2 separate regions of the Homo sapiens genome follow, and region 2 is linked to region 1. Evidence: fine-mapped expression QTL. A gene starts in region 1. The other region holds a variant in brackets. All regions are shown on one strand. Distances are between the middles of the regions. Region 1 holds the start of CACNG6 (calcium voltage-gated channel auxiliary subunit gamma 6). Region 2 overlaps CACNG6 (calcium voltage-gated channel auxiliary subunit gamma 6).

What was found. PIP is the estimated chance that this variant, and not a neighbour inherited with it, causes the effect.
Region 2: its variant is the best candidate, but not a certain one, in a credible set for the expression of CACNG6 in whole blood (INTERVAL, PIP 0.68).

Annotation. Positions count from the first base shown.
Region 1 is chr19:53,990,223-53,993,001 of GRCh38, reverse strand. CACNG6 (calcium voltage-gated channel auxiliary subunit gamma 6) reads right to left here and starts at 1,365. Exons shown (of 4, transcript NM_145814.2): 1 at 1-1,365. The coding sequence starts at 124.
Region 2 is chr19:54,011,610-54,014,388 of GRCh38, reverse strand. It overlaps CACNG6 (calcium voltage-gated channel auxiliary subunit gamma 6), which reads right to left. Exons shown (of 4, transcript NM_145814.2): 4 at 1,723-2,438. The coding sequence ends at 2,200. Among named protein-coding and RNA genes, the nearest start is that of CACNG6, 21 kb to the right of the region's middle. The variant AAAT/T (reference allele first, on the strand shown) is at 1,373.

The DNA of each region.
Region 1 (2,779 bases):
CCAGCTTCACCTTCCCCTCGCGCTCGGGCGTCAGCCCCGACCTGCCCTGCCCGTGCGCCCGCCGCCGGCCCGCGGCCCCCCGCCGCCGGTTCTCCTCTTGCAGGAAGAAGTTGGACCACATCATCTTATGGCCGGTGGGGTCGGGAAGGGGGAGGAGGCAGAGCCGGCGAAGGGCCTCGAGGGGCGGGAGCGAGGAGCGGCCTGGGGTCTTGAAGGGGGTGAGGGACTCAGTTTCCCCTGGGTATGAAAGAGGGAGAGCCGAGTCCTGTCTGGAATCTCAAATGCGAAAGTCGAGATTGCTTCTGGGGTTCAGAAGAGAAAAATGATCCCCAGGGCTGGGGAAGCCTCTGGGGTTCAGAGGAGGGTCTAGGTTGCCCTCAAGAACTTGGCAAAGAAGACGGGGCCCAGAGGAAAAACAAGGCCCCCACCCTGAGGTTTAGAGATAGAATTCGGCTTCCCAGGAGGGAGTCCCCCCAAGAGCTCCAGAGGAATGAGAACTGGTGCCCGCTGAAGCTCCCTGCAGCTCCAAGGGGCTGCTTTGGGGTCCCCGCTGGGGGGTTAACAAAAGGGAAACTGGTTTTCCTGAGAGATCTGAGCACCCCACTAGGGCTAAGAGTTTGGGGTACCCAGGAAGGGACCTGAGGTCCTGTGTGTGTTTGGAGGAGATGTGGCCGGGGTTCCCTTGGGCTCAGAGTTTGAGAACAGAGGACTTGGGGACCCTCTGGGATTCGGAAAAGGAAGACCTGGGGTCCCGGGAAGCTCCCAAGGGGAGGTCGGAATTCAATCCGGGTCTCAAGAGAGGCAGTAGGACCCCGGCATCCACAGAAGGAGAAGAACAGAGCCCTGGCTGGGGCTCAGAAGAGGACTGGGCCTCGCTGGAATTCAGGAAAAGGGGATAGGGGTCTCCCCTGCCATTCAGAAAAGATCCGAGGTCTCTACTGAGCCTGGAAAAGGGGCCGGTGGCCGGAAGACAGAGTGGAGTCCAGAGGCGGGAGGCTACGGGGCCTCCCCGAGGGCTGGGGCAGATGGGACCGGGGGCCCTCCTGGGGCTCACACTATGGGGCTGTGGTCCGCACTGCGGCTCGGAAAACCAGGACTGAGTCCCCCCAGGGTTCAAAGGCCAACCGCGACCCGCAAGAGACGCTGCGCCCCTTCGGGATCAGTCCGTCTCCCTCCCCCGGGCTCCCAGGGCCTTCCCGGTCGGGTTCGCGCCAGGCTCAGCCCCAGGCCAGGGCCCCCCCTCGGGGCTCCCACCCCCGACTCCCGAGCAGGGGCCCCTCTCGCTCTCCTGCCTCGGCCCCGCGCCGACCCCAGCTCCGCGCTGCCTCCGAAGCGTCCGGCTGTGCCCGCCACCGCCACCGGCCTGGCCTCCGCCCGCGCCCGGCCTCGTCCCCACCCGCCCACCCCCCACCCTCCACCCTCCACCCTCGGGGCTATTTCGGGCTTGACCCGTAAATAACACCCGCACCTGTCGCCCGGCGCCTGTTGCCATAGGGATCCCGGGTGTTTTAAGGGGACGAGGAAGGGGGGAGGGAGGCCGCCCGGGGAGGAAGGGGCCGAGCCTGATGGGACTTTCATTTCACTAAGGGGCAAGAGCGGCGCCGAGAGTCCCAGCTCCGCAGTCTCCCGGGCAGCAGGAGACGGGCGGGGCAGCAAGTCTGACTGGGGTTACCAGGGAGGAGGGGCGGGAGGCAGGGCCCCGGGTCTCAGGGAGGAGGGCCTGAGGCCAGGAGTCTTGGGTCCCTAAGGGAGAAGAAGCCTCGGTACCCCACTTCTGAGTGGTAGAGGAAGAAGGCCTGGGTACCCAGAATCTTGGATCTGAGAGGAGAGGAACCTGGTCTCCTAGGTCCTGGGCTCCTGAGTCTGAGGGAGGAGGGGCTGGGGGCCTGAACTCCTGGGTCTGAGGGAGGAGGGGCTGGGGTCTGGACTCCTGGGTCTGAGGGAGGAGGGGCTGGGCCTGGGCTCCTGAGTCTGAGGGAGGAGGGACTGGGGCCTGGACTTCTGGGTCTGAGGGAGGAGGGACTGGGGCCTGAACTCCTGGGTCTGAAGGAGGAGGGGCTGGGGGCCTGGACTCCTGGGTCTGAGGGAGGAGGGGCTGGGGGCCTGGACTCCTGGGTCTGAGGGAGGAGGGGTTGGGGGCCTGGGCTCCTGGGTCTGAGGGAGGAGGGGCTGGGGGTCTGGACTCCTGGGTCTGAGGGAGGAGGGGCTGGGGCCTGGACTCCTGGGTCTGAGGGAGGAGGGGCTGGGGGCCTGGGCTCCTGAGTCTGAGGGAGGAGGGGCTGGGGGCCTGGACTTCTGGGTCTGAGGGAGGAGGGACTGGGGCCTGAACTCCTGGGTCTGAAGGAGGAGGGGCTGGGGGCCTGGACTCCTGGGTCTGAGGGAGGAGGGGCTGGGGGCCTGGGCTCCTGGGTCTGAGGGAGGAGGGGCTGGGGGCCTGGGCTCCTGGGTCTGAGGGAGGAGGGGCTGGGGGCCTGGGCTCCTGGGTCTGAGGGAGGAAGGCCTGGGCCTGGACTCCTGGGTCTGAGGGAGGAGGGGGCAGGGGGCCTGGACTCCTGGATCTGAGGGAGGAGGGGCTGGGCCTGGACTCCTGGGTCTGAGGGAGGAGGAGGGCCGGGGAGCCTGGACTCCTGGTCAAGGCGTTGGCAGACCCAGAGTCCTGGGCCTCAGGGAGGAGACTGGGGCCAGAACCCTGGGTCTTGAAGGATGGAAGGCCTGATTTCCATGTTGGAGAAAGCGCAGGCCTCAGGGCAGGGCCGGCTGTCAGGGGCACAGAATGAAA
Region 2 (2,779 bases), 21 kb before region 1:
TCTACCCTAGGGCCTGTGCCCATGGACCTAAATTAGAACAGGCATTTCCGAAGGTGCTGGGATTACAGATGTGAGCCACCACACCCAGCTAATTTTTGTATGTTTTGTTGTTGTTGATTTGTTTTGTTTGTTTGTTTGTTTTTAGTAGAGACAGGGTTTCACCATGTTGGCCAGGCAGATCTCGAACTCCTGACCTCAGGTGATCCACCCGCCTCGACCTCCCAAGGTGCTGGAGTTACAGGCATGAGCCGTCGCGTGGGGCCAAGACTCACCCTTTTCTTAACACCTGGCAACCACTAGTCTGTCTTCCGGGTCTGCAATTTAGTGACTTCAAGAATAAGAAACCTTGTTTCAACCCCTTGACCTGATGCCAGTGTGTCTCTGCTCAGCAAGCTCCCATGGCTCCTCAGTACCCTCAGGGTAAAGGCCAAGCTGTTCTGTTGAGCATCTGAGTCTCTCCACCTTGTTCATAAGACAGCCCACCCCAACCCTCTCACGTTTCCTGTGTCTCACTCTGAACACCAGCGTTCACATTTCCTCACTCACAGGTTCATCATGTTTTTCCTCTTGTTTCTGTCCAGGCTCTCCCACCCAGCTGGAACGCCCGTGACGTTCTCCACTTTCTCTGATTCTTACTCACCTTGAAGACTCAAGTTCGTCATCTTCTTCGGAAGGCTTTCCTGAACCAATCCCCCTTCCCCCCACCTTTTTGATTTTTTTTTTTTTTTTTTTTTTTTTTGAGACGGAGTCTTGCTCTGTCACCCAGGCTGGAGTGCAGTGGCGAGATCCCGGCTCACTGCAACCTCCAACTCCCAGGTTCAAGCAATTCTCCTGACTCAGCCTCCCGAGTAGCTGGGATTACAGGTGCCTGCCACCACACCCAGCTAATTTTTGTATTTTTAGTAGAGACGGGGGTTCACCGTGTTGGCCAGGCTGGTCTTGAACTCCTGACCTCAGGTGATCCACCCGCCTTGGCATCCCAAAGTGCTGGGATTACAGGCGTGAGCCGCCACACCCGACCAGAAAACACAATTTAGAATATATACACTGTTAATGGTTGAATGTTCTCCCCTACAAAATGTATATATATATATATATGTTGGACCCTAACCCCCAGTACCTAAGAATGTGACCTCATTTGGAGATACGGTCTTTACAGAGATAATCAAGTTAAAATAAGGTCATTGGGGGTAAATCCTAATCACGTATGACAGGAGTCATGTGTAAAGGGGAAATCTGGGTGGGGTACGGTGGCTCACGCCTGTAATCCCAGCACTTTGGGAGGCTGAGACAGGTGGATCACTTGAGATCAGGAGTTCGAGACCAGCCTGGTTAACATGGTAAAACCCCGTCTCTTCTAAAAAAAAAAAAA[AAAT/T]ACAAAAATTAGCTGGGCATGGTGGCTCGTGCCTGTAAACGCAGCTACTTGCGAGGCTGAGGCAGGAGAATCACTTGAGCCCAGGAGGCGGAGGTTGCGGTGAGCCAAGATTGCAGCACTACACTCCAGCCTGGGAGACAGAGCAAGACTCCGTCTCAAAATAAAAATAAAAATAAAAAATATATTGTGTTTTCCACACTCTCAACCATTGTGTATGGGTTCGTTTTCATGTGACTTCTGGGCTTAAAAGTGTTTCTGGAGGGTATGTTTCTGGAGGGAATATGGGGTCACTTTTCTTTACCCCAGAATGCACGATCACATCACAAATAGACTCCAAAGCAAAGTTGTTAAATTTCCAAACCTTTAATCCCAAATCAGATCACAGCGAGGCCAGACCCTTCGCTATCTCCCCCAACCGCACCCGGAGCTGCAGATGAGTTGTAAAAAGTCTCTCCCGGCAAGTGAATCGATCCAGACCTGGGAAATGAAGGGGCCCCCAACTCCCACCCAAGACCCCCTGACCTCATCCCCCAACCCCACACCCCAGCTACCCCATCAGGTCCCCGCCAGTCTTCTCTGGGGACCCTCGTTTGCAAAGAGCCTCTTCCCATCCCACCCCCAAGCAACCCACATACAGCCACAGAGAAAAACGTATTTACAGAGGGAGAAAGGATAAGGGGACAGGAGGCAGGCGTGTAAAAAAACATGGGCCCCCGAGCAGGGAGAACACAGTTTCTCTAGGAGATGGGGCAAAAAGATCTTGGGGGTACAATGGAGAAGGTCAAAGGGCTCGGTGGTTGCTTAGAGAAGTCTCACGCGTGGCTCTAGGTGGCCCGGTGCCCCCGCTTGGGACAGAGGGACCCCCAGGGCCAGGAAGGCAGTGTGAGCAGCAGAAAGCAGCCGGCCCCCAACAGCAGGATCAGGCCGGCCCCCACGCCGCAGCCCAGGGACCAGGAGTACTCGTAGGTGAGGCGTGGGGCCGGGGGAGGCTCCGGGCTGACTCTCTGCAGCAGGGCCCTCACGGAATGCCGGAACACCTCCAGGCTCACCAAGAGCAGCAGGCCTGCGGGAGAGAGGACAGCTCGCAGTCAGACGCCCGCGACCCCAGCTGTGTCTGAACATCTCCGCCATCCGCTCCCAGCCCTCCCGCCCACCCTGGCACCTTCCCACGCGTGCACTCAACAAATACTTACTAAACACCTACTATATAGCAGGCAGCATTTGGGAAGCTGGAGATAAAGAAAAAAAAAAACAAGACACAAAGTCATAGAGACAGAAAGTAGAAGGATGGTTGCCGAGGGCCGGAGGGAAGAGGAAAAAGGGGAGTTGGTGTTTAACAGGTATAGAATTTCAGCTGGGGAAGACGCAAATCGTTCTGAAGGTGGATGGGGGTGATAGTTGCAT